Homo sapiens: one gene and its partners. Changing the gene in region 6 together with the main gene of any one other region gives a genetic interaction. Each region holds a gene or a part of one and is shown on either strand. Other genes may lie near its edges.

Region 1 (5,120 bases), on a different chromosome or scaffold from region 6:
AAATACTATATGTTTACAATAACTGTTCTATTTTTAGATATGTTTCAGTACAAAAGTTCTTACTATTGGGTTATGGTTACCTACAGAATTTAGTACAGTAACATGCTGTATAGGTGTGTAGCCTGGGAGCAACAGGTTGTATGGCACAGAGCCTAGGTGCATACTAGGCTATACCATCTAGGTTTGTGTAAGTACACTCTGATGTTCACACAATGATGAAATCACCTGACACATTTCTCAGAATGTATCCCTGTCATTAAATGATGCATGATTGCATTTAAAAGCAGAGGAAAAGAGAAATAAGCGGTGAATTCTAAATAGAAGTCTTAAGTTTGGGGTTGAGGTTCTTGAGGTGTTAGGAAAGGACAAAAGCATGGGGTATAGATGAATTAGCTGAAGTGGGAGAAATTGTTTTCCTTTCAAGACCACGATGAAGGGTGAACCAAATATAACGAATTATTGAAGGCAAATCTTAATAGAAGGCACTGTTACTGACATTTGGAAGAGCATAATTAGAACCTTAAAAAAGGTTTTTTAATTAAAAAAAAACTGTTCATTAAAAAAATCACAGATAATACCAATTATCCATGTATTCATTTAAGTAAAAATATGTTAAGTATTTCTTTGTCAAATAGTCTAATATATATATCTTTGTCAAGCAAAAGCATGGATTTATAATATTTGTCAATAAAGACACGTCATCTAGGATTGACATAAGATTTAATTTATATACTTTGATAATTGTATGGAAAATGTATCATTAGTATAGATATTAACTCAATTTCATTTTAAAAAGAGGTAAAGCAATTTTGTTTTAAAAATAGGAAAATAATAGATGAGTTTGGTTTTGAGAGAAATGTTCTGTTTTTCTTTTATAGTTCAGCTACCTTGATCTAAATTATTGGTTTTAGTATTGATTAGCGTTTTGATTCAGTGGATTGGAGATCACAAACTTCAGTGTGTGGCTTCATTTGACTCCTACTTTTCCCATTTGCTAACATTGCCAACCCTGGGTTTCCTCTGTAACATTGGAAGGATTCTGATCTCAGTGTTGTAAAGATTAATTAAGAGAATGGATATTAAGTTAGTTTCTAGTTTGCTATTAGGTAACTACTGTTCATTTATCAGTTTGGAGTTAAACAATCTCTTCATCTATTATTTTTGTGTACTGTTTCCTATCAGTAGTTTAAAAGTAATGAATCTAGTCACAGGAGAAAAGTATGGGACAACCACCCCAAAACAACCATTTATTTACCTCATTGCCATCTTTTTTCTATTTGTGTCTTCTTTTACGTTATTAGACTCATACTTAACAAAACTCTGAATTGAAAAAAATTTAATATTGTAACATAGTTTTTTATGTCTGCAAAAGCTTGTCATAGATAATAGTTAATACTTATAACAGTTCTTCATTTTATTGCAACTTAATGTGTACAACCATTTCTCTCTTGCTCAACTTTTAGTTTCTTTTCCCACAGTGAACATCGTTTTCTATATTTTGGGTTATGTTCAATTACCAGTTGTTCAGTGATAACTGATGTTACTGATAAGAAATTTTATTGCCTTCAAAAGTTTTACATACTTACATTTTATAATATTTATGTAACATGTGTATACTTTGTTTTAATAACTACAATATATATTTTGTTGAATATCCTGCCATTTTTCATTTATATCATGAGCATTTTATCCTATTATAAAATGGTTTTATTTCCTCCATTTCCTGGTGATGAGAATTATGAAATCATTTTTTAAAGGAAAATTTTAAATATTTCATCATACAAATGTCTTGTAATTTATTTTTTTCTGTATTTTTAGACAAAAATTATTTTCCTATTAAAAGTACTTTAATGAACAGTTTTGTATGTAAGTCTATGTTTATGTCTGATTTTCTTTTTTGGGATACATTTCTAGAAGTAGAAAAAAGGATGCAGAGTATTGATATTTTAAATATTTTTGATACGTATTGCCAGATATATTTTTGACATATGTTGCTTTCTGTGGGCACTCATTGCATAATTATAAAGCTTTTTTAAAGTGTCAGACAGCGTTCTGGGTGCTAGAGATATAACTGAACCAAAAGAGCACAGATGTATTAGCTGGGTGTGGTGGCACACGCCTGTAGTCCCTGCTGCTGGGGAAGCTGAGGTGGGGAGATCGCTTGAGCCCAGGAGGTCACGGCTGCCATTGATTGTGCCATTGCACTCCAGCCTGGGTGACAGAGTGAGACCCTGTCTAAAAAAGAGGAAAGACAAAAAAAGCACAGATGTATTGTGTATGAGAATATGGCTTCACTGCAGCAGCCCAAGCACTGAATATTATTGATTTTTAAATCTTTGTTATTTAGCTAAATGAAAAATGCTCTCTTTTAGTTTGCTGTTCATAGTTTGCTGCTCATAGCTTCTTAGTTCAGAATTTAATCAAATGATTTTGTTTTCTTTATAGATTGTGCCAAGGACTTGAATGGATGATGTCACGACTTAAGATTAGATGATCTCTACTGACCTCTTCTCATAGATTTTGTATAAATGAAGTGCTGGACTTTACCTGAAAGCTGCAAAAATTAATGGTTTAGATATATTTATAATAAACTGATTTAAACTTTTTCTATAAGAAGAAAAATTAAGACCACTTATTTGAAAACAAAGATGAAGTCTCACCTTCCAGTTTGCTTTCTCATTAGTTTTTTCCAAAGTAAGTTATTGAAGCTGTGATTGACATTTTTCTCATAATGAATCCTCTCAGGACATTGTGTAGCCTATGGTAAGTACAAAGGGAGAGGAAGACATTTTGAATTTTAAGAGCTTTATTATCAGTTTAACCCTCCCTAGTTGAATGTTATTTTCTTCTTGTTCCATTAAGTCAGAATACAAATCAGCACAGATATTCGAATGTTTCCAATATTTTAAAATGTAATGTTACTTATGAAAAGTATTTTGCTTAAGGTTGTGTGTGTATTGTGTATATACCTCAAGTTCAAGTTAATGGCATTGATTTATGTTCCAGACAAAAATAACACAAATAATAATATCCTTCGTTATAACCACAATGAGATAAGTATTGGCATTAGTGTTCAGTGCCATTTTATACTTTCTCTCTGTGTTCTCTGTATTGTACTAACCAACCTCCCAAATCGCTGAGCTGCTTGTTTAAAAAAAAAAAAAAGGAAAAGGAAAAAGCATGACATTGTGTATCGATTTTTTGTTGTTGACCAAAATCACACACATGGAAACATGTAATTCAACAGAGTGGGAAAGCTAGCAGATTCTTGGCTTAGTATTACTAATAGGCAGGATTGTACAATGAGCAACTATCAGATTATTCCTTTCAGTGGTTCTTATGGCATCTAAATTACTGAATAAATTATTAATCCATTAATCAGTGAATCAAATTATGATTACAATTATCAAATGAATGCTCAGCATTAATTGAAAACTGTTTTGTGAAACATGTCTACCCAGAAAAGTAGCATTCTATAAATACTATTAAACAACTTAGCTATATTATTTTTAAGTATTAAATTATATGTCAAGCAGTTAAAGTGAATTTCAGAGTAAAAGTAAGGCATGTTTCTGAGCAACATTGATAATTTCTTAATTTGCAAATTTCTTCTTATTTTGGTACTTGGAATATAGTGTGAGATTTTTTATTTCTAAATTTTGTTGTATCTTCTATTACATAAATGCATTGACAATTATAAAATGCAAGTGTTTTTTGAATGATTTTAAGAATTTGGCTTAAAAATTGATTGATACAACGTATTATTTGTACTAAGAAGTAACTTGACCCAAAACACCTTTTATGTTTGCTTAGGGTATATTTTTTCAGTGTCTGAAAGTCAAAGGTATTCCTGTCACAACTGTAAACAAACTTATCCTAAATGTGTTAAAACATATTCTTGGGTACTCTATTTATGTATCTTTCATGCCTTGAAAATCTGAAGGTTAATCCAAACTCACATGTTTTAGCATATTTGAGAAAAAAAAACTACCTTCAATATCAGCCTTTTAAATTTCATGAAGATTTTGGTGAGGAATAATAGTATATAGTTTAAGTATTGACAAAACTTTGAAAGTTTCTTTCTTTAAAATGGGAAATACTCAATATCTAAATCCAGGTCAGGCATGGGATATCAGTATTTAACATTGGATGTTTTATGTTTTATATTTATAATGTTCAAAATGCAAGCATAACATTTAATATTTGTCCACATGGTTTTACAAAAGTAAATCTTAAATTACTAAGCTTTTCCCATATGTTCTCGTACTTTCTCAAATCCCTATAAAGAATTACTTGTTATCTATTAAAAATCTCCTTTACCCAAATCTGTATTATGGTTTCGCCAGACAAATATTATGTGATGTAGCCCAGAAAATCCACACCTTTTGTCCTTTTTATGTTTTAATTTGAATAATCATGTGCTTAGTCCCTTGGATTACTGCCACATCAGTTTAACACGATATCAGCACATTCCCTTGTCATCATCAAGGTGTTGGCTCAGATTTATTCTTAATTGGATGTTTAAAGCATGTACTACCTTGTTACAGTTGGTTTAGTGTAGTGGATTATTGACATGACATCATGAGAAGATGTGTAATTTTATACCACATTTATAAAACATGATTTTGTTTTCTACCCTTCAAGGTAAACATTAAAAATAAGGTGGTACTTGTGTACTTGTACATAAAACCAAAATTATAGTTGGGAAAAAAATAAATTTATATATGAAAATGTCAAAATCATTTTAAAAGTATTATTTTCAAATAAAATGGAGAAGCTGGTGAAAAGTCATATTGGCAATTTTTATGTAGTTTAAGTGGAATTAAGCAGAGGGAGATGCTTTTGGGTTTTTAATATGCCACTTCTGAGTGAAAACATCTCGTGGAGTCATTGTGTTCAGCTCTGAGAAGAACAAAGATTCATAGTTCTGTACATGTGGCTGGATTTAAATATCCTGTTTTTGATACTAATTTTGAAAGTCATGTAACTTCTTTTGATATCTGGGCAAAAGTAACCATATGCTATAAGCATTTGAATATGTTTAATTTTATCATAATAGCATCTGTAAAAGTACATCTTACACATTATATAGAGGGTTCTTGTTTGAAATTTTCAGTTCT
Region 2 (5,558 bases), on a different chromosome or scaffold from region 6:
GAATTCTCAATTTTTTCAAGTGGTTCAGCCCCACATTCCCTGAAGTGATCAACGGAACTCTAATTGCCCAAGATATTCCTTAGAAAGATGATTCCATTATTACATAAATTTAAGAGAAGGTATACGGTGTATATCTATTCTGAATGTGGAGGATAGTATATATTCATCCTAAATTATCTATGAAGAATTGCAATGTTGGTAAAGAATTATAGAACTAGAAAGTCATGGGGTATACCTCTCTGCTCCAAAATGTGCCCTTAACAGTTTGCTACTGTTGAGTATTCAGCCATAGGGTTCTTCTCTATTCCATTGTCATTTAACCTTAGCAGTTTCACCTTTTTAGAAAAATGGTTTGTCATATTTCTTTATGTTGCTTCCTGTTTACTTTCTTATTTACTAATGCTGTCTTGTTTAGTAATTTAAAAAAATGCAGAAATGCATTTTATTTTAAAGTAATTCTTTTTTCTTTAACATTTAACTCTGATTTTTCTAATTATTCTTTTTTATTTTTCCATTAGAGTGACCTCAGTTCTGTGGTAATTTGATTTTTTATTATAAATTTTTATACTTTTCTTACTCACCACTTTTTGACTCTGCCTAATTAATCTCTCTTTACAAAACATAGTGGAAAAACAGTTAGTTGTGAATACCACCTATGTGACTTCAGAAAGATTATATATAATTTTATGTACTTTTTAATTATATCAATTTTCTATTCCGTGGGGCAAAATTAGCTCAAAAGTTAAATTGTCATACTGAAACAATTCTCATTTTCAGTGTTTCTTCTTTAGATTTTTTTTTTAAAGAGGTATGTTACCTTGTGTCAAATGGCCTTGTGATTTTCATCATCTTACTGTAAAATACCCGATTATCCTAGCCTTCAGTTCTTTGAGTAGACTGTATAATCGAAATTCATTTTCAGATGCACAGTGGTTTTAGTTTTAAGTCTGGGTCAGGTGATGATGGCCGCTTGACAAAATGAAACAGAAGAAAAGCAAATTTTCCCAACTTGGCTAAAATTTTGTTTTCAAAGTTATATTTACAATAAGCAGCATTTGCTTATATCACATTACATATGTAATAACATCAACTGCCTTAGCACTGAATTCTTAATTTTTAAAATATCAAATTGCTTTACACTAACTGTTCAAACTAACTTGATTTTCCATTATGCTGCTTGTTTTTCTTTCGTTTTATCTAAGCTCTTCCTAAATTTATGCAGAAAATTGCAGTTTTTAAATTGAAATGTGGGTCTGTGGTTATTTTTTTAAAAGCAATGGATTGATGGGATATATGTACTTTTTTTTAGAACCAGTAACCAAAAAATGCCATTAAATGATGCATTTTTTTAAACTGATAAATCATTTTATTTCTATTTTCATTTGAACACATGTCCCAAAAACTAAAGAATCTGTTTTATTTTAGATAATAGTACATTATATTATAACTTAATCATTATATTTTTGCAAATGATTTTCATTTTCTTGGTGTTAGTGTTTAAAAAGCTCAGCCAGGCGCGGTGGCTCATGCCTGTAATCTCAGCACTTTGGGAGGCCGAGGCGAGCGGATCACGAGGTCAGGAGTTTGAGACCAGCCTGGCCAACATGGTGAAACCTCATCTCTATAAAAAATACAAAAATTAGCCAGGCATGGTGGCACTTGCCCGTAATCCCAGTTACTTGAGAGGCTGAGGCAGGAGAATCACTTGAACTCAGGAGGCAGAGGTTGCAGTGAGCTGAGATCGCACCACTGCACTCCTGCCTGGGTGACAGAGTGAAACTTCGTCTCAAAATAAATAAAAATACAAAAATTTAGCTGGGCATGGTGGCACTGCCTGTAGTCCCAGCTACTAGGGAGGCTGAGGCAGGAGAATCGCTTGAACCTGGGAGGTGGAGGTTGCAGTGAGAGGAGATCTTGCCACTGCATTCTACTCTGGGCAACAGAGCAAGACTCCATCTTGTGGGGGTTGGGGGAAGCTCATAGGCCAGGCACAGTGGCTCACACCTCTAATCCCAGCACTTTGGGAGGCCGAGGTGGGTGGATCACTTGAGGTCAGGAGTTCTAGACCAGCCTGGCCAACATGGTGAAACCCTGTCTCTACTAAAAATACAAAAATTAGCTCAGTATGATATTGCGCGCCTATAATCCCAGCTACTCGGGAGGCTGAGGCAGGAGAATCCCTTGAACCCGGGAGGCGGAGGTTGCAGTGTACCAAGATCACCCCACCACACTCCAGCCTGGGTGACAGAATGAGACTGTCTCAAAAAAATAAAAAGCTCTTAAGTGGCAAATTTTTCTGGTCATAGTTGATTTTATGTTATTTATGTGTAGTAAACATATTACTATGAAACTTTTGAAAAAAATTATTGAATACCCTTAGTGTATCATTTTTCATGTAGGTTTGTTTCAAAGATAAATCAAGTTAGTCTGTTATCCTTCAATTACATGAAGGAAAATAATAACCAAATAGCATAAAATAATGTTTAGCATAATTAGGGGAATTAATTTATCTAAATTTATCTAATTATCTAATTTATCTAATTATTAAAATTACCTACTGGCAAATATTGCTAAATAGCATCAGCTTTAAAATCTGTCACTGAGGCTACAAAATACCTTTTGCCTGATTTAAAAGCTCTACGATGGTGAAGTATAATCCACATATTCTTTTTTTAGCCCTCAATATACATTTAAAATGAACTAAGAAATCACTAATGACCACTCGCAAATTGCTTTAATTTAAAAAGTTAAATCCTTCAAGATTACAAAATAGATTATTCATAGTATTAGTGGTCACTACACTATCTAAATTGGCATTAATATGACAATCAAAGTTATACTGCCATATTATAATGAAGACTTAATTATCTTAACGTAATACTGAAATTATAGGAGCATAGGTATATTCATCATACTAAAGCACATTTTAATATTTTAATACCTAATGAAAAGAAAGAGTATTTGTAAATGAAATTCCAGTTAAGTATTTTGGGATGTTAAGACAAAATATAGTTATCCTCCATCCATTGTTTGACAAGGTATCAGTTGACTAACACTTGACTTTGCCCCTGTTAATTATGATAGGGTGAAGATTTCTTTTCTTGCATTAATTGTGGTAACTTTGATTTGCAGGCATGAACTAATCACATTTGTGGTTAATATTTTTTCTTCATATAGATAAGATATTTTTGTTGAGATAAATATTTTAAATGCCACCACACCTTGGTGGATATTTTTTTCATATCCTCAGACTGATGAAGTATTTCTGGAAGCCCAGATTCAGAATATGACAACCTCACCTATGTTTATGGAGAAGGTTTCACTGGAGCCATCTATTATGTACAATGTAACAGAATTAAATTCAGTCAGCCAAGCTGGAGAATGGTAAATATTAATTTATGAAGTCTTTATCCTTGTTTTGAAAGATACATGTTTTTCTAAACATCCATTGCTCTTCAGTGGGTTTTTTTTTAATAGACTTTTTTTAAAGAATTTGAGGTTCATAGAAAAATTCATCAGAAAGTAGAGTTTCCACATACCCTCTTCCACTCCTCACAGTTTCTCTTGTTATTTACGTCTTGTTTTTTATTTTATTTTTATTTTTATTTATTTATTTATTTATTTATTTTTTGAAAGAGTCCAGCTCTATGCAGTGGCATGATCTTGATCTAGGCTCACTGTAACCTCCACCTCCCAGGTTCAAGCAATTTTGGTGCATCAGCCTCCCAAGCTGCTGGGATTACAGGTGCATGCCACCACGCTTGGTTAATTTTTTTATTTTTAGTAGAGATGGGGTTTCACCATATTGGCCAGGCTGGTCTTCAGCTCCTGACCTCAAGCGATCTGCCCACCTTATCCTCCCAAAGTGCTGTCCTTACAGGCGTGAGCCACTGTGCCTGGCCTACATCTTGTTTTAATGTGGTACATTTACTACAATTGATGAAATGATATTGACACTGATTACTAACTAATGTCTATAATTTACATTAGAATTCACACTTTTTGTTGTATGTTTTATTGTTTTTGGTTTTTGGTTTGTTTTGTTTTAAGAGACAGGTCTCATTAATGTTGCCCAGGCTGAAGTCAAATTTCTGGACTCAAACGATCTCCCAAGTATCTGGGACTATAGTCAAGCACTGTAGGTTTTGACAAATATATAACATGTATCCACCATTACTATATTATGCAAAATAGTTTCACTTTCCAAAAACTCTCCTGTGCTCCATCTTCATCCCTCCATTACATAAAAATAAAGATCCTAGCCCTTTTAATTTCATGTTTTACTATTCAAAGCATTTGGTCTTTTAAGTCTCATAAAAATCCAGTGAGGTAAATATGAATCCTATCATTGCTATCCTGCAAATAATAAAATGGAGGAATGTGAAGGAATGGTAGAGAAGTTAAAAAGAGTAAGGGTGAATGTGGGTTTAAAAAAAGAAATACTCTCTCAACATCAAAAGAAAAGGACATAGGAATAGATGGTTTAATACTTTGTGAAAAGGAAATACATACACCTTTCCACAGCTAATTTAAAAGAGGAAGAATAAATGTAAAGTTGACAATAATACAGATAAGAAAGTAATAGGCTGGGTGTGGTGGCTCATGCCTGTAATCCTAACCCTTTGGAAGGCTGAGGCCAGAGGATTGCTTGAAGCTATGAGTTCTAGACCAACCTGGGCAACTTGGCATTTTTTTTATTTAGCTGGGCATGGTGGTACACTCCTGCATTCCTAGCTCCTTGGGAGAGAGGCAGGAAAATCGCTTGAGTCCACAAGTTCAAGGCTGCAGTGAGCCATGATTGCACCACTGTACTCCAGCCTGGTGACAGAGAGAGACCTTGTATTTTAAACAAAAAAAAAAAAAAAAAAAAAAAGAAGAAGAAGAAGAAGAAGGTAATAGCTTGGGATAGCATCTGAATTTCTTAATTAGGAATGAAAAGTTTGCTTTTATATTCTTAGGTTGGTTACACACAGAAAAGTTCATAGCCTCTTTCATCCTCACTGAGGAAAACAATTTTCCATTCTTTTCTAGATGTTTTAGTTCATTTTGAAAATTAGTTTAGAATGGTATGTCTCTTATTATTCTAAACTCTTATCTTTGATAATTTTAGAGAAAAGAGACAGGATACTTAAGGTTCTGGTTTCTGTTGCACTTTTCAGTTAATTGATACATGTTCAATTTTATAAGTAATATATTACATTCTATTATAAAGAACCTCCTTGAACCCAGAAGTTAGAAGTTACAGTGAGCTATGATCATACCACTGTACTCCAGCCTGGGTGACAGAGCAAGACCCTGTCTCTTAAAATTATTTAAAAAAAAAAAAAGGGACCCCTGCCTTTCGGGGTCCAATTACTATAAAGAACCTCAAGATTTTCGATATCAACTGAAAAAAATGAAGGAAAAATAAATCATTGCAGTATACGTTCTTTTTATTTGTATTGAAATCGTTAACATGTTCTGTTGTTGATCTTTGGAGGGTACATCATCCAGTTCCTATCCAAAGGAACAATCACAGCCATGGTTTTTCTTTTAAAAGATGCTAGAGAATTTTCTCC
Region 3 (5,558 bases), on a different chromosome or scaffold from region 6:
TGGCTTCCAAACTTTTAAAAGAATATGTTTATTATGGTTTCAAAAATAGAAAATACGTATCACCTGATATTTGCAATTTTAAGTGTAAACCAGATCTTACAAGGTAACAAAATATGCATGTGATAAAAACTGAACGTGTTTTTTATTTTTAAAAATGCTGAAAATAGGAAATAAAAATGTTTACAACTTCACTGGTCTAGAAAGCATTCCTCCCAGCTATACAAATTTCTAACTAAAATCCTTCTATTTGTCCATATAGTTACTTATTAGAAACAGCAATCATTCTACAGAAGTTACATTTTCCCAGGTAAATAATTATTATAACCATGGTCCCAGCCCCCTAATGTTCAGGGTTTGGGACAGGTGGCAAGGATGACTACAGGGAGTCATCTAAGCAAACTGAAAGCAGGATTCAGAAACATAGTTTAATCATAGCTCGGTTTACTAAACTATAAAACATTCTGTCCTTTTACTTGAAAGAACTAGCTGAATATAAATTCACAAACTTGAAAAAACTACTTGGAAACCACTAGTTTAGTTTTTATTTAAATTTTAAAAAATGGTAATAAAGCACATAACTTATGTGACATGGAAGCAAATTTAAAACATTTATGAGTAATTATATTTTTAAAGTATTAGATACCTTAGCTCAACAATAGCATAGAAAGTTAGGCTTGCAATATGAACTACTTAAACAGTGTAAGATTTTCGGCCAGGCGCCGTGGCTCACGCCTTGTAACCCTAGCACTTTGGGAGGCCGAGGTGGGCGGATCACAAGGTCAGGAGATCGAGACCATCCTGGCTAACATGGTGAAACCCCGTCTCTACTAAAAAGACAAAAAATTAGCCAGACTTGGTGGCGGGTGCCTGTAGTCCCAGCTACTCGGGAGGCTGAGGCAGGAAAATGGCGTGAACCCAGGAGGCGGAGCTTGCAGTGAGCTGAGATCGCGCCACTGCATTCCAGCCTGGGTGAAAGTGCAAGACTCCGTCTCCAAAAAAAAAAAATTTTTTTTTCAGAATTGTGTAATTTTCTTCCAAATTTACCTCTTTGGCTAGGGAAAATTTTCTGGAGTTATTAAAATGCTTAATGGTTTACAAATTTCTTGTACCTAATTACCAAATAGCTAGAAAGTGAGGGAGGGGATGAGAACCTGGGATGATGAGTTCTGGGCTCTTGCCTTTTTCTGATGCACTAGACTGCCTCTTTCCCTGATGTTTTTTATTTTCTCTCTGTAAAAATGACAATTGTTTTATCTTTCTATCTGACATTAGAGCTATTTAAAGATAAAATGGTTTTAAATAAATTAGTTATTGGTATCTACGCATGAAATTCTATAGCACAACTACTTTTTTAAGTATAAATACAGTCAATCAAAATAAAATGTCCAATGACAAAAGCTGGTGAATGAGAAAACACTGAAACAGCTCATATTTGGGACTCACTGCCCATCCTGGAATGCCTCATATGAGTTGTAGTTTGTCTTTAATTCTTCACTGACTTAAAAAAAAAAAAAAAGAAAAACCCCAAACAGCCAAAAAAAAAACCAAAAACAAAAACAAACAAAAAACCTAGAGTCCTTACTGTAGCCTACACAATCCCTTAAAATCCAGTATTGGATTTTAGTTAGCAGGTTTCATAACTTGTGGAACAAAAGTAACTTTTTCAGGAGATAGGTCCCTAGCTAACAAGACAATAATTAGGATAACATTTCACTGATCTTGAGGTATAGAAAACCTATAAAGGTATAAAAGCAAAGGAAGAAACTCTACAGAAAAAAAAGAAATGACTACACAAAAATTTAAAACCACTATAAATGAGAAATACAATAAAATAATTAACAAACTAAATGACACAATAAGAAAAATTTTACAACATATAGGGAAAAGGATTAATTTTACCACATATAGAGTGCTCAGAGATCATCAGGACACACCAACAGAAAAACAGTCAAAGAATAGAAATAGGAAAATCACAAAAGAAATATGAAAGATAAATGAAGGTACAAAAACGTTCAACCTTACTAGTAACCACAAAAATCTTAACAGAAAAATATTTTTCTACTAACTTACTATTATAGGCAAAGCTTGTAATATGGCCAATTCTCAGTGCTTGGAGTGGGATTTTAGAGTTAATCTCAAAAAATGCTGGTGGGATTGAACATTTACCTAGTCTTTCTAGAGGGAAGATAAGCAGTACACAGCAAAAGTCCTTAAAAGACTTCAGACACTGATACAAAATGACTCTTCTAGAAAGTTATTCTCAGCAATTAATCAGAATTGCATTGTAGCATTCTTTTTGAATGCTACAAAGAAAGCTTATTACAATGTTATGGTAGTGAAGAATCGGGAGAAAAAGAATATAAGCAACATCTTAAACACAACAGTATATATTAAAATTGGATTTTTAAAAAACATACCATCAGATTGTGAGCACTGTCACAAATGAAAAACAAAATATGTACATGCAATAAGTCAAGACTTGAGAACGGGGAGAAAAGGATATGCATAAAATAAAAGACAATAAGAAATACATCCAAATGTTGGCAATGGTTTTCATGGGATTGTGCACCTGTTGGTAAATTTTAATGTTTTCTTTAGTTTCTGGCATTTTCAAAATGTGCCAGAGTTTGCGTATTACTACCTTTATAGTCAAGAGTGAGAAAGATTTGTTTTTTAAAGGGCTGAAAGTTAAGGAGAAAAATGGTCCAGTGGAAAATCTATTTTTCCCATACGGCTAGAGGTTTTGTGTCTGTATAAAATGCATACATATAAAGCTCCCTAACTCTACGTAAAATCTAGTTTCTTCCCATGTTCATTGTTTATCCTAACTGAACATTGTTCATTGTAGCATCTTAACAAATTCCAACTCTAAAAAACTATTTATCTAACGGGGTCTTGCTCCGTCAACCCAGGCTGGAGTGCAGTGGCGTGATCTTGGCTCACTGCAACTGCCTTCCGGGCTCAAGCCATCCTCCCACCTCAGCCTTCCTGAGTAACTGGGACTGTAGGTGCAGGCCACCATGCCTAATTTTTGTATTTTTTGTAGAAAAGGGGTTTTGCCATGTTGCCCAGGCTGGTCTTGAACTCCTGAGCTCAAGCAATCTACCCTCCTTGGCCTCCCAAAATGCTGGGATTACAGGTGTGAGCCACTGCGCCCAACCATTTATCTAACTTTCGACTACAAATTGCTAAGTATCAATAAGGTGATAGATAATACTGCAACCAAAAGTTCATCTATCCCTAATAAATCAACAGATGATAAAATAATGACACTCACTTATCTTTTTCCTCAATACTCTTTCAATAAGTGTTTATTCCATTTGTCATCTCATCAGTACCACTTACCTTGGCATTACCATCAGGTAAGAAGAGGTAGGCACCACTTTTGTCTCTTTTAATTGTGGTTCCATACCATGAAAATTGCACATTTACTTCATGGTGTTTACCATCTTCTTTAGTCATCATTTGCTAAAGATTAAAAAAAATAATAATAAGCAACTCACCACTAAGATGTTAAGCATGTTGCATCTGGTTCTATGTATATGACAATTTAAAAAAATAATTTCTGTACTTATCTGGTGGACCAGTGACACACAGACCACGGAGTAGCGCCACCCACAGACTATACATGTGAGCAGCAAGTGGTCAATGAAGGTGCAAAAAGCTCATGCTTCCTTTTACTCAAGAGTATTTGATACAGCTCTACTTAAGACTTTTTTCCCCTTTTGCCTAATTAATCTACACACATTGTAGCAAAAATGATAAGCATTCTATGAATTTTAGAACTATTCAGAACATACCTTCATAAGTCCAGTTTGATCAAACCGAAGTAAAACAAAGGAGTTCTCTAGTGTTATACCTTCTTCAGTATTTATCATATTCTTTATGGTGAAAATTCCGCTATCTTCTACTTTATTCTTATACAAGACATAATCAGCTAAATGTGAATTTGAACTTGCTGATTCCAAAATCTTATACACTTTCAGTCCCAATGGCGGTATATGTGCTCGAAAAGAGATCTTTAAAAGATAGGGAAGGGAATTTATTAAAGATAAATGTTATCTACTGAGAGGCAAACCATTTATATTTTTGGTAAAACCAACAAACTATCATATTTTTTAAAAAGAGAATCCAGTTGGCCCTCCATATCCACAGGTTCCATGTCCACAGTTTCAACCAATTACAGATAAAAAATGTTTGAAAAAAAAACAAAAAACAAAAAATACAAATAAAAACTATAGTATAATAACTATTTACATAGCATTTACATTGTATCAGATGTTACAAGTAATTTAGAGATGATTTAAAATACACAAGAGGATGTGTGCAGGTTATATGCAAATGCAGATGCTCCTCAACTCATGATTGGGTTATGTCCAATTAGAATTTGAAAATATCGTAAGTCAAAAAGGTGTTTAATACACCTAACCTATCCAAAATCATAGCTTAGCCTAGTCTACCTTTCATGTACTCAGAACACTTAAATTAGCCCACAGTTGGGCAGAATCACCTAACACAAATCATATTTTATACTAAATATAAATAGCTTATGTAATTTATTATATACTATACTGAAAGCGAAAAATAGAATAGTTGTATGGGTACTTGAAGTACGGTTGCTACTGAATGCACATTACTTTCACGCTATTATAAAATTGAAAAATCTAGGTTGAGCCATTGTAAGTCAGGGATCATCTGTACTATGCCATTTTATATAAAGGACTTGAGCATCCATAGATTTTGTTATCCCCAGAGGGTCCTGGGACCAGTCCTCTACAGATACCAAGGCATGGCTGTGTAACAATATTCTATAAATGTTTGATATCTTATGGGTAAACCATACATGTCTCAGTTTATCCAGAGAACCTAATAACCTAAAGTTGGTAGGCCTATCAAAAGCACTAATGTTTTTATCCAATATGTGAACCTGTATGATCATTCTCAATTGTTTGGCTGTACTCTAGAATGCCTAGAGAAGGAAATTTTCCATGAATGTAAGGGCTTTACAACAATGCCATTTCCTAATTATTAATTTTTTTTGCAATATTATGATATTTCGGTTAATAAAAATGATAAACATAATATAAATATTAAACAAGTTAGCATTAGCCATCAAATGCTTGAGGTTCAGCAGACACTGAACAGAGCATGGGGGATGCACACAGTTTAAGACATGACCCCTGCTTTCCAGGAGCTGTTGCTGTTCCATTTTCTAGATGGAAAGCTTCCTGTAAAATCTGACCAAAATTTTTATTATAGTTTACCTTTCTATCTAAAAGATGATGCATATTTAAGAGTAGCTAGAAGGTGGATCACGGGGTCAGGAGTTTGAGACCAGCCCAACCAACATGGTGAAACCCCCTCTCTACTAAAAATACAAAATTAGCCAGGCGTGGTGGCACATGCCTGTAATCCCAGTTACAGGAGGCTGAGGCAGGAGAATCACTTGAACCCGGGAGACAGAGGTTGCGGTGCGCCGAGATCGCGCCATTGCACTCCAGCCTGGGCAACAAGAGCGAAATTCTGTCTCAAAAATAATAATAATAATAATAAAAGTA
Region 4 (5,558 bases), on a different chromosome or scaffold from region 6:
TGAAACAAATGGCCACAAAGTAGGTAGCTTAAAACAACATAAATGTATTTTTCTGCAGTTATGAAGTCTAGAAGTCTGAAATTAAGGTGTTGGCAGGTCTACTTCTTAGTCCATTTTGTGCTACTATGACAGAATGCCTGAGACTGTCTAGTTTATAATGAACAGAAATTTACTTCTCACAATTCTGGAGGCTGGGAAATCCAAGATCAGGTGCCAGCACCTGGCTAGGGCCTTCTTGCTGTGTCATAACATGGCAGAAAACATCACGTGGCAGAAGGGCAAAGGTGAGGGCAGAGAAAAGGGGACCAAACTTGCCCTTTTATATCAATCTCACTTCTGTGATAGTGGCATTAATGCATTCATAAGGGCACAGCCTCTTAATACCGTTACAATGGCAATGAAATTTCAAGATGAGTTTTGGAGGAGCAAACATTTAAACCATAGCAGTCATGCTCCTTCTGTAGGCTCATAGGGGAGTAATATGTTCATTGACTCTTCCTACTTGTCTCACTGTTGGCATTCCTTGGCTTGTGGCTACATCACTCTGTGCTCCAACTTCACATTGCCTTCTCTCTGTTTATGTGTATGTCTTTTCTTCTGTATGTATATTTTATAAAGATACATGTGATTGCATTTAGAACCCACTCAAATAATCCAAGAGAGGCTCCTCTTCCCCAGATCTTTAACCTAAGCATGTCTTTTGTCATTTAAGGCAATAATCACACTTTTCCATGTAATTTTCACAGGATTGGGGGGATTAGGATGTGTACATAATCTTTTAGCGGGCCACTCTTTAGCCCACTACATGCTTTACTGATTATTACAAGTGTTAGACTGCTATGTGTTGTCCCACAGGTCTCTCGAATTTTGTTCATTTTTCTTCAGCCTTTTTTTTTTCTCTATGTTTCTTAGATCATTTTCTTAACCAATCTTCAAGGTTGGTCAACTTAATCAAGGTTCATTAAGTCTTCTGCCATACTGTAGAGACCATTTAGCATATTTATTTGTTTTATTTTGAATATTTTTTAAATAGTTTTCATTTCTCTCGATATCCCTTGTCTGTTCATTTACTGGTAACATTTTCCCCCAATTTTTGGAATATATTTTCTTTTCATTTTTGGAATAGATTTATAAAGACTTTGCAGTCTCTGCCAAATTTGGCTTCTGGGCCCACTTTGATTCTGATCTCTACCTCCCTTATTGCTGGGCATCCTGACATCTCCCACTTCTGCACAGTTAAGCTGCCAACTAGAGACTTGACCCAACAATTGCAACTGGTAGGAAGTTATTTTTAGTAAAGTGAATGAACACAAAAATTACCTACAGATCTATTTATTAGGTGGTTTATGTTAAAAAAATGAAAACCTAAATGGCAGATAGAAAATTGATTAAAATATGGTAAATTCATGTAATGGAATACTATTCAGACATTAAAAATAATGATGGAAAGATATTCAAATCATGCTAAATGAAGGAATCATTTAAAAGATACATTATAATCCCACTTTTGCTTAACTAAATTATACATATATATGCAAAAAGAAAATACTGGGTGGATATACATCAGAATGTTAGCAGGTTATCTCGGGAAGATTAAGATGATTTTTATTTGATCACTTTCTGTATTTTTTTTTTTTACAATGACTGTATCACATTTGTGATAAGAAAAGTACTTCTGAAGTTATTTTTCAGAAATTTTACTATATATGTAACAAATTTTTTTCCTCCACAACTTTTATGTCTATTTTAGAAGTATTAAAATACCAGCAGTCTTTTCATACATGCTGCAGAATCATTTTGAATCCCAAGAAAGATCACAGATGAATAATTACTACAAGAGTTTTTTATTCAGATAAGTTAAACATAATATATGTATATGTGTACATAATGCACTGTGTTGCTCTACTCTTCGAAAAAATAGTTCTTTCTTGGAATACAATATTTGGAGGCCATAGAGCTTAAATAAATGTGGAAGAAAACTGAAGCAGGTACACGAGAAAAGAATAGGGGGAAAACACTGAGGGCAGAAAATTTAATCTGTCATGAGAGGCAGAAACAACTGGAATCATAGACATATGCTGTAGACTTTCACCATCCAGTGTGGTGGCCACTAGCTGTACATGGCTGTTGAGTACTTGACATATGGTTGATCAGATTGAGAAGTGCTATAAGTGTAAAATACATAATGATTTTTGAAGAAATAGTACAAAAAAGCAAAATATCTCAGTAATTTAAAAATACTGAATACATGTTAAAAATGATTTACATTTGTCTTTATTAACTTTAATTACTTTCAGATACTTTTTTATACATTGGGAACATTTAGGTCTTGATATAAAGTATGAAATAGTAAGCATCCACATATGATTAGATATATTAGATATTCCCACCCCCCATGTTTTCCTGGAGTAAGTACCTTTCTTTGATAGGCTAGAAAGTAAATAGACTTATTCTGGTGGGCAACTCACTTCTGATAAATTTCAGCAGCTAGGACATTCCTGTTATTTTTAAAAGAATGACATTTGAATAGTTGGGACATAATGATTATTTCTCGTTTCAGATCATGTAGCATGGATATGCCAGATCAGTCACTAAGTGGGTAGATATTTGAACAGATTTCTCTAAATCTGACTTGGCTCTTCATTGATAAATTCTACTAGTGTAGAGTTTTCTGACACTACAGTGAAAGGTAGCAGATCCATCTTTTAATATATTTAAATAGGAGAAAGGAGGACAACATTTTACTTTTGTCGTGTTAATGAAAGATCCTAACAGACTTTATTTCCTTAAGTAAATAAATTCTTTCAGATGAATTATTACCATCTAAAATAATCTAAGAAAAGTAAATTATACACCTAGTAAAATAGCGTTATCAGTATTTTGGTTTTCTGTATACTTCTTGGAATTATAGGAGGAATGTAGATGATATTTTTCCCTTACAGCTTGACTGTGTAAGTTATTTTTATGCTGGCCGTAGAATATATATTACATGACCAGAAATGAAGATTCCATTACATTACTTAGTACAAATTGAAAACAATTAGAAAATGTATGCTTTATTCTTATCTCTTTTATAAACAAGTATTTTAATACATTATTATGGCAAGGAGTGTAGTGGTACTTCCTTTGTGTACTTGTGTCAGTGGAGCTAAAACATCTTGTCAATTTTCTATTAAATTATCCTTTGATTTGAGATATGGCACAGATACCTGTTTCCTTCCACAAGACAGAAAAATTAGATTCCAAGATAATTAAGATTTGCCCAAAACCCAAAGAAAAGTAATTGGAACTAAAACTAGAATTCTGTTTTTGGGACAATTGGCCATTTGTAGCAAAGGACAGCAGATCATTGGTTAAGAGCATAAACTTGAGCCAGATTGCCTGATTCAAATTCCGGCCCATTTAGTTCCTAAGCATGTAACTGTGTTAAACATCTTGACTTTTGTGGCTCACTTATTGATAAATGGGTATAATAATACTATTTACTTTAGAGGATTAAAGAAGTTAATATATGTAAAGCATTTAGAACAGTGAATGGCATATAATGTAATATATTAATATATTAATATTAATAAGACTAATATTAGGATTAATGTTTTGTTGGTATTAATAAAATAAATATATGCTATACTTATCAAAGATATATAAAGATGAAAGTATAAAACACTAGAGTAAAACATGGTTTTATAGTTTTATAATCTTGAAATGAAGAAACCTCTACTAAGTATGATTTAAAAATCTGTCAAGCATAAAAAAAGAATTTTACTACATAATCAAGAAACTATAGCAAAAGATACCATGAACAAAGTGAAAACATAACAGTAACCTGGGGGAAATACTTACAGCACATAACATTAGGCTAATTTTCTACTGTGTGAGAACAGCTAGAAATCATTAAGGAAATCGCAATGCTACAGAAAAAGCAAACAGCAGAGAAAGACACCCAAATGAGAGTCTCAGCATCATTCAAAGTTAACTACTGTAAACTAAAGTGTTTCTCACTTTTCAGATTGGCAGAGATTAATATATAGTCAGTATTGGGACAATGAGGCAATATGAAGCATTATTGATGGGAGGTATAAATTGATAGACCTTTTAAGAGATATTTGCCAATAATGTCAATTTTAAAAACATAAACCTTTTGAACTTCCAGTTTGACTTCTAGAAATTTGTCTTATAGCTTCATCATAAAAGTTGACCTCATAAATATAGATTAGTTCAACCCCAAGATATTCATCAATGGAGATTTGGTGAATAATGTTATATCTCTACAATAAAGTACTATATGTAAATTTTTAAAAGAATAATGAGGATTTATATATGCTAATACTTAAGGATATTCAGCATATATTAAGTAAAAGCAAGTTGCGGAACTGTAATATCCTTTTTGTGTGTTTAAAAAATCAAGTAAATTATATACATGCTTACATATGCATTACATAGATACATGGATATACAGAGGATGCATAAGCATTAACTGTAACTATATCTGGGAAATAGGATATAAGCTACTAGGCAGAGATTTTTAATTCATACTCTTTATTGTTTGAATTTTTTCTACAGTGGGTATATTGTTACTTTTCTAGTTAGGAAAAATAAAAACTGAGAAAAAAGTTTTAGCTGTGTGCAGTGGCTCATGCCTATAATCCCAGCATTTTGGGAGGTTGAGGGAGGAGAGTCACTTGACTCTAGGAGTTTAAGACCAGCCTGGGCACACAGTGAGACCCTGTCTCTACAAGAAAATAAATTTAGAAACATTGGCTGGGCCGTGGTGTATGGGAGACCAGCCTGGGCAACACAGTGAGAGCCTGTCTCTGTAAAAAATAAATAAGTAAAAATTAGCTGGTCACCATGGTGCACGCCTGTGGTCCCAGCTGCTCGGGAGGCTGAGGTGAGAAGATTGCTTGAGCCCAGGAGAACAAGGCTGTAGTGAACCATGATCATGCCATCGCGCTCTATAGCCATCACACTCTATAGAGCCTGGGGTCAGAGCGAGACCCTGTCTCAAAGTTTAAACTTCTTCCAGGATGGGTATATTAGTTACTGATAGCTGCATAACAAAATACCCCCTAAGCTTAACAACTTGTAAAACAACAACTATTTATTTCACAGTTTCTCAGGAAGATAAACTTGGGAGCAGCCTAGCTAGGTGGTTCTGGCTCAGGGTCTCTCATGAGATAACCTGTTGGCTGGGCTATAGTTATCTCAAGATTCTACTGAGTTTGGAGGATCTGCCTGAAAGCTCAGTCGTGGTTGTTGGCAGATCTTAGTTTCTCTTTGGCTGTTGGCCAGAGAGTTAAGTTCCTCCTTGCATGGGCTTCTTCATAGGGCTGTTCACGGCTTGGCAGGTTAGCTTCTTTCAGACTGGGGTATCTGAGAGAAAGAGAGCCAGAGCTCAAGACTGGGCTAACATGGAAGTGACATATCATCACCTTTGCCGTATGCTACTGTTCATACAGACCAGTCCTGGTACATTGTGAGGGAGGACTACAAGGGTGTGAATAACAGGAGGTGGGGATCATTGGGGGCCATGTTGGAGGCAGGCTACCATAATGGGT
Region 5 (5,558 bases), on a different chromosome or scaffold from region 6:
GCGCTATCTCGGCTCACTGCAACCTCCTCCTCCCAGGTTCAAGCAATTCTCCTGCCTCAGCCTCTGAAGTAGCTGGGATTACAGGCACGTGTCACCACACCCAGCTAATTTTTATATTTTTAGTAGAGACGGGGTTTCACCATGCTGGTCAGGCTGATGTCAAACTCCTGACCTCTAGTGATCCACCCACCTTGGTCTCCCAAAGTGCTGGGATTACAGGCATGAGCCACTGTGCCTGGCCTCTACAGGTTTTTTGTATTTTGCCTTTTTTTTTTTTTTGAGACAGGATCTTACTTAAACTGTCCCTCAAGCTGGAGTGCAGTGGCAGGATCACAACTCACTGTCACTCCTGGGCTCAAGCAATCCTCACACCTCAGCCTCCCCAGTAGCTAGAACTACAGGTGCATACCACCAGGCCCCATTTTTTATATAAGTATATAATATATATATATAATGTATATATTTTATTATTATTTTTTGAGTCAGAGTTTCACTCTGTTGCCCAGGCTGGAGTACAATGGCTCGATCTCGGCTCACTGCAACCTCCATGTCTCAGGTTCAAGTGATTCTCGTGCCTCAGCCTCCCGAGTAGCTGGGATTACAGGCCTGTGCCACCACAACCGGCTAATTTTTGTATTTTTAGTAGAGATGGGGTTTCACCATGTTGGCCAGGCTGGTCTTGAACTCCAAACCTCATAATGATCCGCCCACCCTGGCATCCCAAAGTGCTGGGATTACAGGCATGAGCCACCACGCCCGGCCTAATGTAAAGATATATGTATATTATATATATAATGTTTTATATATATTTTGTAGAGATGAGTCTCTCTATGTTGCCTAGGCTGGTCTGAAATTCCTGACCTCAAGTGATCCTCCTGACTCAGCCTTCCAAAGTGCTGGGATTAGAGGCATGAGCTACCAAGCCTAGCCTGGGTTGTTTTATTGTTCATCCTGCTAATAATACAGAGAGTAGGGATATGGTATCAAGTTGGAGAACAGGATATTTTTCAAGAAGGTGAGAAAACGTTTCAATGCTGGGATCTAGTTTTGCTTAACTATTCCAAAGCAGTAGTTGATGCTTGCATATTCTGTTGAAAACTCTTTTTTTTTTTTTTTTTGATGGAGTTTCACTTTTGTTGCCCAGGCTAGAGTGCAATGGCTCATTGCAACCTCTGCCTCCCAGATTCAAGCAATTCTCCTGCCTCAGCCTCCTGAGCAACTGGGATTACAGGTGCATGCCACCACACCCGGCTAATTTTTGTATTTTTAGTAGAGACAGGGTTTCATCACATTGGTCAGGCTGGTCTCAAACTCCTGACCTCAGGTGATCCGCCCGCGTCGGCCTCCCAAAGTGCTGGGATTACAGGCGTGAGCCACCGCGCCTGGCCGAAAAGTCTTAAGTATTTAATGAAGTTTGCTTAAATTACATATTACAGTATAATTAGATCTTCAGTTTGCTTTTGTTTTTTGTTTTTGAGATAGTCTTTCTCTATTGCCCAGGCTGGAGTGCAGTGGCGTGATCTTGGCTCACTGCAACCTCCATCTCCTGGGTTCAAGCAATTCTGCCTCAGCCTCCTGAGCAACTGGGACTACAGGCATGCGCCACTATGTCTAGCTAATTTTTGTATATTTAGTAGAGACGGGGTTTCGCCACGTTGCCCAGGCTGGTCTCGAACTCCCGAGCTCAGGTGATCCGCCCACCTCGGCCTACTAAAGTGCCGGGATTACAGGCGTGAGCCACTGTGCCTGGCCAGTTTGGTGTTTTTTGTTTTTGAGACGGAGTCTTGCTGTGTTGCCAGGCTGGAGTGCAGTGGTGCGATCTCAGCTCACTGCAACCTCCACCTCCCAGGTTCAAGCGATTCTCCTGCCTCAGCTTCCCGAGTAGCTGGGGTTACAGGCACCTGTAGCACATGCCACCATGCCTGGCTGATTTTGTATTTTGTTTGTTTGTTTTGTTTTGTTTTTGTTTTTGTTTTTTTGAGACGGAGTCTCACTCTGTCACCCATGCTGGAGTGCAGTGGTGCGATCTTGGCTCGCTGCAAGCTCCGCCTCCTGGGTTCATGCCATTCTCTTGCCTCAGCCTCCCGAGTAGCTGGGACAATAGGTGCCCGCCACCACACCCGGCTAATTTTTTGTATTTTTTTTTTTTTTTTAGTAGAGACAGCGTTTCACCATATTAGCTAGGATGGTCTCAATCTCCTGACCTCGTGATCTGCCCGCCTCTGCCTCCCAAAGTGCTGGGATTACAGTTATGAGCCACTGTGCTCGGCCTAATTTTTGTATTTTTAGTGGAGACGGGGTTTCACCATGTTGGCCAGGATGGCCTCTATCTGCTGACCTCATGATCCTCCTGCCTCAGCCTCCCAAAGTGCTGGCATTACAGGTGTGAGCCACCATACCCGTTCCAGTTTCGTTTGTTTGTTTGTTTTTTAAAGAGCCTGGGTCTTGCTCTGTCACCCAAGTTGAAGTGTAGTCACTTGATCATGGCTCACTGCAGCCTCGAACCTCCTGGCTGAAGTGATCCTCCCACGTCAGCCTCCTGTGAAGCTAGGACTACAGGCACATGCCCTGAAACCTGGCTAACTAAACAGTTTTTTTTAGAAAACAGAGCTGCACTCTGTTGCCCAGGATGGTCTTGAACTCCTGGACTCAAGTAATCCTCCTGCCTTGGCCTCCCAAAGAGCTAGGATTACAGGCATGAGCCACAACATCTAGCACAGATATTTTATATATTATAGTCAAAAGACCTCACCAGGTGTGGTGGCTCACACCTGTAATGTCAGCACTTTGGGAGGCCGAGGTGCTAGGATTGTTTTAGCCCAAGAATTCAAGACCACCCTCGGCAACATAGTGAGAACCTGTCTCTACAAAGAATTTTTAAAAAATAGGCATGGTGCGGGCCCAGTAGTCCCAGCTACTGGGGAGGCTGAGACAGGAAGATCACTTGACCCCAGGAGGTCAAGACTGCAGTGAGCTACAATTGCACAACTGCACTACAACCTGGGTGACATGGCAGTATCTTGTCTCAAAAATAAATAAATAGGCCGGGTGCAGTGGCTCACACCTGTAATCCCAGCACTTTGGGAGGCCAAGGCAGGAGGGCTGCTTGAGCCTAGGAGTTCAGACCAGGGTAGGCAACATAGGAAGACCCCATATCTATAAAAAAGTAAGAAAAATTAGTCCAGTGTAGTGGTGCCAGCCTGTGGTCCCAGCTACTCAGGAGGCTGAGGTAGGAGGATCACCTGTGTCCAGGAGGTTAAGGCTGCAATGAGCCATGATCATGCCACTACCCTCTAGCCTGGGCAACAGAGTGAGAACCTGTCACAAAAATAAATAAATTAATAAAAAACAAAAGACCTAACAGTAGCCTTTTTCAAAAAAAAAAAATATATATATATATTTTTTGAGACGGAGTCTCACGCTGTCACCCAGGCTGGAGTGCAGTGGTGCAGATCTTGGCTCACTGCAGCCTCTGCCTCCCGGGTTCAAGTGATTCTCCTGCCTCAGCCTCCCGAGTAGCTGGGACTACAGGCGTGCACCACCATGCTCAGCTAATTTTTGTATATTTAGTAGAGACGGGGTTTCACCATGTTGGACAGGGTGGTCTCAATTTCCTGACCTCGTGATCTGCCTGCCTTGGCCTCCCAAAGTGCTGGGATTACAGGCGTGAGCCACTGCGCCCAGCTGAGAGGTTTTTCTAAGTCTTTGTGTATACATATTTCCTTTGCAAAAATTGATAGCAGACTACAAGACCTTAAACTAATGGATCTTAATCTGATTATCATGTATTAACGCTAAAGGCAAATAATGACTCCCACCATTAATTAGTGCCTTTATTGACTGAATCAACTTGCAAAGCCAGTTAGAAACTGCAGTTTTGTTTTGTTTTGTTTTGGTTTTTCAGAAATGGTCTCACTTTGTCCCCCAGGCTAGAGTACAGTGGTGCAGTCTTGGCTCACTGCAGCCTTAACCTCCATGGTTCAAGCAATCCTCCTGCTTCAGCCCCTGAAGTAGCTGGGATTACAGGTGTGCGTCACCATGCTTGTCTAATTTTTTTGTGTCTTTAGTAGAGATGGGTTTCACCATTTGGCCAGGCTGGTCTCGAACTCCTGACCTCGTGATCCTCCCACCTTGGCCTCCCAAAGTGCTGGGATTACAGGTGTGAACCACTACGCCTGGCCCAGGCTTTCCTAAAGAAACGTACAGCTTTTTGGCCAGGCTGGTCTCAAAATCCTGACCTCAGGTGATCTGCCCGCCTGAGCCAAAGTGCTGAGATTACAGGTGTGAGCCACCGCACCCGGCCACATGAGATTTTTTACTAATGCAGATTCTGGGATCCTTTTGAATCCTATGAAATAGGATTTTACAAAGGTGGGACCTGGGATCTCAATTTGTACCATTATTATAGCAGGTTCCTCTGATTCTGAAGCTGCTGGTTGGGTGGGAAGCACTCATCTGCATTCATTCTTGCCTCTAACTTTCTAATTTAGCTTCTTTACCCACACATCCCAAAATTGTCCTTAATAAGGCCACAAGGCTGGGCGTGGTGGCTCATGCCTGTAATCCCAGCACTTTGGGAGGTCAAGGCGGGTGGATCACAAGGTCCGGAGTTCAAGACCAGCCTGGCCAACATGGTGAAACCTTGTCTCTACTAAAAATACAAAAATTAGCCGGGTGTGGTGGCGTGCGCCTGTAATCCCAGCTACTCAGGAGGCCTCAGCCTCCTGAGTGATTCTCAGCAGGAGAATCACTTGAACCCGAGAGGTGGAGGTTGCAGTGAGCCGAGATCATGACATTGCACTGCAGCCTGGGCGACAGAGCAAGAATTCATCTCAAAATAAATAAATAAATAAATAAGGCCACAAATGGCTTCCTGGTTATTAAATAGAAAAATATTTTTCAGTTCTCATTTTCCGAGCTGCATTTGATACCTTTGGCTGTTATTTTGTTTTTACAACAATTGCTTTCTTTGGTTTCTAGGATATCACCAGAAGGGTAGTTATGGTTTTCTTTCTTTTTTTTGGTTGCTATTTCTCAACAGCAGTATTCTCAATATTTCTTCCATTTCTGATTGTTTTTTTCTCTCTCCTCCTTAAATATTGGTGTTCTTCAAGGTGACCTATTTTTCTTACTCTTATATACTCCCTGGGTGTCTTTAATTCCCATGGTTTTAAATCTTATGCATAGATCAGTGACTCCCATAATTATATCTTAAGGTGAAATCTGTCACTTTGGCTGCAGCTAAATATCTTTTTTTTTTTTTTTTTAAGACAGAGTCTTGCTCTGTTGCCCAGGCTGGAGTGAGGTGGCACGATCTTGGCTCACTGCAACCTTTGCCTCCTGGGTTCAAGCGATTCTCCTTTCTCAGCCTCCGGAGTAGCTGGGACCACCGGCATGTGCCACCACACCCGGCAAATTTTTTGTATTTTTAGAAGAGATGGGGTTTCACCGTCTTAGGATGGTGTTGCTCTCCTGACCTCATGATCTGCCCGCCTTGACCTCCCAAAGTGCTGGGATTACAGGCCTGAGCCACCGCGCCCAGCGCAGATAAATATCTT
Region 6 (5,504 bases):
TGATGCGATTTTTCAGAAACAAAAGTTCTTCATTCCCAAAAGGTGAGTGAAGACTTAGTATTTGAAGTAAATGTGTGTGTGTTGACTTTAGTGAAATTAATCTTCAGACTTTCCTATATATGTCATAAGCATTCTAGAAAATGGAGGAAGACTAAAGCCATACATCCAGAAGAGTGACAGAAGATAAACACTGAGAATAAGTTCAGCCCAGAATAAAAACATGGATAACCAACTCTCAACTTTCTTAGATGATAATTTCATGTGCCAAGAGATGTTAGGAAGTGATCCAAGTTTAATATCTCCTTCATAATTCTTTGACAATCTTTAAGTTTTATTCATGTAAACTTTCTGTCTCCTATACACTATCCTTTCAGGAATTTTATACCATATAACAATAGTGAGAAAGAGTTGACCTGTTGACCATGAGCTATTGTAGACAATACTGCAGGAATGAAATGCCATGCTAGAAGGAAAAATACAAGGCTAGATGTTTGGAAAACTGCAGGCAAAAATGTCATGGGACCTTAATCGGGATTTCTCATAAATTTTTAGACCTATCTCCCTCAGTCTCAGGACTTCTCATCTTTCTTGGTTTTATATCCATAAGTGAGGTCTGGGAATTCTCTCTTCTTCAATGAAAAGGTTTTAAAAGCCAACACTGTGGCTCTGCTCTCTAATTTTGTTACTATTATTGCTGTTAACTTTCATCAGATCTGTTTCTCAAAGCCAAGTTTGTCCTAAAAGCCTCATAAATTGAATAGCACAGTCCTCAGGATTTAATATGAAAATTGGAGGCAATATTAGCATTTTTTTCAAGTACGTCAAGTGAATTTTGAAAGCTATGCAACTACATTCTAAAACGTTCTACCAAATACATTAATCCTATTCTGTGTTACTGGAAATCGCCTATGTGCAAAGCATCTCCTTTGTCACCTATTTTCTTATTTGAATCTTAAATCTAAAGCAAAGAATTTATAGTTGGAGAATAACAGCAGTTGACAGCCCAGTTGTAGATAGGCACAGTATCAGAAAGGTTTTCTGAAAATATTGCTTATCAGGTTCTGGGATCAATTTTTATTTTTCTGAAATCTGACTTAAAAAATGGTTGCAGATGCTCACTTTAAAGACTAACATTGTTAAAGACATTGTTTAAAGAGCAGTTAATGTTACTCTGTAGTTTCAGCCATTAAAAGTTATCATAATACAAAATCCTTTTTTTCCCCCTATGACACCTCCCTTTATGGCAGTTATTACAATACTCTCATGAGCCTCTCTTGGTCTAATTCCAAATCCGCACGCAATTCTACTCCCCTTATTACACTTTGAATCAGATTTTGGAAGCCCAGAGGGCAAAACCAAAAACTACGTTAACTATTCCAGACAGATGGCTCTGGACAGGAATTTCCATTGAGATGTGGCTCATGAAACAACAGTGGATACCTGTTGAGAGTACCATGGAGGAAAGCACAGGGTGAAATCCCAAGGTGTGAACTCTGTGATTACTTCCCAGAGCAGAAGACAAGAAAAGTATTTGCATCCACAGAGGCTCTATCTAGCTTACAATGCTGAGTGCTGTACAGTGCAGCTGTTACTGCATTAATCCTTCTGGTGTTTCTCACAACAAAGAAAAGACCTGGGTCTTATTCTCTTATTGTATAGTAAAACAAAGCAGATTACAGGAAAAGTGCACAGATCTCTCAGCCACTTCCAACTTCTCACACTAGGATATCCTCCTGCCCCTATCTATCTATTTTGACAAAAATAAGATCCCATCTACTCTGAGAAAGCTTTGGAGGCTTATGTAAACTCAGGCTACTTCTAAGGGATGAAATTCAGACTAATGGATTCCTCCCCCTTTTTAAAATTTTTTTTAATACAGTCATATCTGTTTTATCCTTTGGCAGGATTTTTGCTGTTACCCATTACTGTGTGCTTTACGATGTACTAAAAATGATACAGTGCCATGTCAACACAGAATAAAGTTAAACATACTACATGTAGCCAACCACTGCTTTGCAAACCATGGACTGCTCTCAGTCATGCCACCTGTCAAGCATCAAACCTGAGTATGGACGTCAGCTGCAAGCCTTCATTTACCTGCCATGTGATTTGAACTTTTAAACCACGTGGTAGGTAAGGAAAGAAGAGAGGAAGCATAGAGTGACTAAATGCGAACATTAACACTATAGTAATCTTTTTAGCCTTTTGCAGTAAATTGTCCCATGGTTGATATAGACAGTTTTAAAATTACTTCCTCTTAATGTTATATATGGATCTTAAGGGTTAAATATCACCCATGGACTTGTGTCTCCATTACTGGGCTGGTATTATGCCTGGAGCAATATTCATTCAACAGATACTTATTGAGCACGTACTTTGTGGCAGGCATTGTTCTAGGTGTTTATCCTAAGGGAATATATACTCAAGAGCCTGAAAGAGTTCTGACTGTGGCTCTGCCATTAACTAGTTCCTTTTTGGATTTTTATTTTTATTTTTTGAAATTTACTTAATCTTTCTGTGGCTTAGCTTCTTCATCTGTAAAATATGAATAATAATAGTACCTCACAGGTTTGTCATAATAGTTAAATGAGTTGAGACAAGGTGAGGGAAGAGCACACTATTATAACACTGCCTGGGACATAATCGGTGCTCATTAAGTTCAGCTGCTATCTTTAATGGTCATTCTTATGAGAAAAATAAAGGGCCACACCTGTGTAGCACTGGTATGCTTGCAGAGGCCTACAGTCACATTTGTCATTTTTATAATGGGCCACCTCAGTGTCTGAAATCTCTACTATTATTATAATAGTTATTTCTTTGGTTTAAGAAAACAGTTCTGTTATCCACCAAGGTTAACACATGAACAACTCTTGATAGCAAAACATACACTAATTATTAGGATTATCCCCAGAAGAAACAGGTCTCTAAGGGTGTGGGACAGGGTGCGATGTTGTTTTTATGAGAGTAAGACGTTTAAGAGTGGAGAGGAGGAAACACATCACGGTTCATTGTCACAGTAGAGATTGTGGTCATCCTAAGAGTAACACAAGGTCCTGCATTCCTGGCTAGGGATGACTGAAGAGTGGGTGAAGACACCCTGAAAAGAAGACTGTCAGGTTTACCCAAGACTGTCTTTGGTCTTATGCTATATCTTTCTGGTGTTACAATATGAACATGGAGAATAAGATTTACAAGAGAAAATATATATAGCAGTTTCAAGCATATGCAGACTGCCTGGGTTCCAACCTGAATTTACCACTTATTAGTATAACCTTGAGCAATGCCTTAACTTCCCTTTGACATTTGTAAAACAAACATAATGATAGAATTTTATGGGGATGCTGAAAGGAATCTAATTACATTAGATAATGTCTAAAAACAATGTCTGACAGTTAGCAAAAGCTCAGTAAATATTAGCCTCTGTCATTGTTATTGTAGTTTGCTATTATTGGAGCTGCTTTAATTATTTAGTTTCTTCTTTTCCTGAGTCCCACTTAATTTTGCTTGCCTTCTATGAGCCTTTGGCTGAATTTGAAATTCAAAAGTTCCAAATCTTTTTGATCCCTATTTTATTATAGTCTCGGTATTCTACCAATGATCTCAATTGTAAAATGACATTGCCAATATAATCGTTGTTGAACTAATAAATCTGAAAGCAAGGTTTCTATTATTTTGGTTCTATATCTAGTTGAAATTCTATCACTAAAATTTGCATAAATCACTTAATCTCCTTGTGTTTTAGTTGCCTATCTGCAAAATTAAAAATATTGGGGCAAATGTAGTTTCATTTGCAAATTATATATAGCATTTGAGAATTGCCCCTCAAGTTTTCTGAAATTCAGATTCTCTAAGTTGAGGTGATGATTAACCTAGTCAGATTTTATTTGATAAGAGTTAAGAATAGGCATCTCCATTTGTATTAGTCTGTTTTCGCATTGCTAAAAAGAAATACCTGAGACTGGGCAATTTATAAAGAAAAGAGGTTTAACTGGCTCATGGTTCTGCAGGCTATACAGGAAGCATGATGCTGGGGAGGTCTCAGGCAACTTACAATCATGGCAGAAGGCAAACGGGGAGCCAGCACTTCACATGACTGGAGCAGGAGGAAGAGAATTGGGAGGTGCCACATATTTTTAAACAATCAGATCTCACGAGAACTCACTACTGTGACCACAGCATCAAGGGGTGATGGTTTTAACCATGAGAAACCGCCCCCATGATCCAATCACCTCCCACCAGGCCCCATCTCCAACATTGGGGATTACAGTTCACCATGAGATTTGGGCAGGTAACACAAATCTAAACCATATCACCATTCAAGTTTTTAATCTTCATAAATGCCAAGGTTTTAAAAGACTGCCGGGTAGTCCTAAATTGCTCCACTGAGCAGATAAGCAATTACTATGAGTAGCGTCATTTTAAATACATGCAAAACTATTGGTATAGTGACAATAAAGCATTAACTAAGATTACCATAACTGGAGATTTAGGAAAATTTCATCTGAGTTGCATTGTTCTCTTTTCACAATGTATAAATTGCTTAAATTGGGTGATAGTTTAGTTTAACTTTATTACTAAGCATTAACCTCAAGGATTGAAGCTCAGATTGTGGAATTTCACCTGCTATCCAGTGAGCAGAGAGGGTATTCTTTGGACATAGGGACCTTTTAAGTAGCCTTAAAACTATAGTAATCAGGGTGATGCATTTCCTCAAAGGCTTGCCCAGTTTATGTCATCCAAGCATGCCACTCTCTACACAGCACACTTAAAACTTTTTAGAACAGAAATTGCCGATGTGTTTTAGCTCACTTGCCAGTGCTTGTTGATTGTCAGTAATTACATGAATCTCTCTTGAAAACAGTTCTGGGAGCGGGGAGGGATAGCATTTGGAGATATACCTAATGTTAAATGACGAGTTACTGGGTGCAGCACACCAACATGGCACATGTATACATATGTAACTAACCTGCACGTTGTGCACGTGTACCCTAAAACTTAAAGTATAATTTAAAAAAAAAGAAAACAGTTCTGACACCAAGTTATAAATTAGCAGATGAGAATGTGTGATTGATTAACAGTGTATGAAGGAAAGGGACCATCAGCATTTATTTGTGTTAAGTTTTTTTATCCTAATCCTAAACTTCAAATTCTTTAAGGGCACAAACTATGTCTTACTCATTTTGGTATCATGAGTGCCTAGCTTGGACCACTGTGTATGTAGCTCTTAATAAATGTTTGTTAAAATTAACTAATTCATATTCTTAAATTCTTTTGTACTATATAGAGATAGAGAGATTTTAATTGTAATAATCTTTCGTGAGTTTTTCTTCTTTATTTGAAAAAGGATCCAGACACAGAGATGAAGAATGACTTGTACCATCTTCTGAGAACAAATGGACTGAAAGCTTGTGACTAGAATCCACTACTTTTCAACCTCTTACTCCTAGAGCCCATCCTTTTGGCCAAGGGCTTTTAGATTGCTGTGAAGGAGAGTGTTTATATAC

Evidence for each region.
Region 1: changes in FUT8 (region 6) and ARL5A together harm fitness more than expected from each alone (negative genetic interaction), as found in Homo sapiens cells (one large-scale study listed by BioGRID).
Region 2: changes in FUT8 (region 6) and TRAPPC13 together harm fitness more than expected from each alone (negative genetic interaction), as found in Homo sapiens cells (one large-scale study listed by BioGRID).
Region 3: changes in FUT8 (region 6) and MAN2A1 together harm fitness more than expected from each alone (negative genetic interaction), as found in Homo sapiens cells (one large-scale study listed by BioGRID).
Region 4: changes in FUT8 (region 6) and SEC24B together harm fitness more than expected from each alone (negative genetic interaction), as found in Homo sapiens cells (one large-scale study listed by BioGRID).
Region 5: changes in FUT8 (region 6) and SEC24A together harm fitness more than expected from each alone (negative genetic interaction), as found in Homo sapiens cells (one large-scale study listed by BioGRID).

What each region holds. Positions count from the first base shown.
Region 1 is NC_000002.12:151,800,650-151,805,769, reverse strand, and holds part of ARL5A (ADP-ribosylation factor-like protein 5A), read left to right. Parts: intron 1-2,445; coding exon 2,446-2,494; 3' UTR 2,495-5,120. UniProt on the Homo sapiens protein: Lacks ADP-ribosylation enhancing activity.
Region 2 is NC_000005.10:65,655,118-65,660,675, forward strand, and holds part of TRAPPC13 (trafficking protein particle complex subunit 13), read left to right. Parts: intron 1-518; coding exon 519-536; intron 537-3,250; coding exon 3,251-3,384; intron 3,385-5,558.
Region 3 is NC_000005.10:109,818,130-109,823,687, reverse strand, and holds part of MAN2A1 (alpha-mannosidase 2), read right to left. Parts: intron 4,020-5,558; coding exon 3,801-4,019; intron 3,469-3,800; coding exon 3,346-3,468; intron 1-3,345. UniProt on the Homo sapiens protein: Catalyzes the first committed step in the biosynthesis of complex N-glycans. It controls conversion of high mannose to complex N-glycans; the final hydrolytic step in the N-glycan maturation pathway.
Region 4 is NC_000004.12:109,457,209-109,462,766, forward strand, and holds part of SEC24B (protein transport protein Sec24B), read left to right. Parts: intron 1-5,558. UniProt on the Homo sapiens protein: Component of the coat protein complex II (COPII) which promotes the formation of transport vesicles from the endoplasmic reticulum (ER).
Region 5 is NC_000005.10:134,650,834-134,656,391, forward strand, and holds part of SEC24A (protein transport protein Sec24A), read left to right. Parts: intron 1-5,558. UniProt on the Homo sapiens protein: Component of the coat protein complex II (COPII) which promotes the formation of transport vesicles from the endoplasmic reticulum (ER).
Region 6 is NC_000014.9:65,736,560-65,742,063, forward strand, and holds part of FUT8 (alpha-(1,6)-fucosyltransferase), read left to right. Parts: intron 1-5,504. UniProt on the Homo sapiens protein: Catalyzes the addition of fucose in alpha 1-6 linkage to the first GlcNAc residue, next to the peptide chains in N-glycans.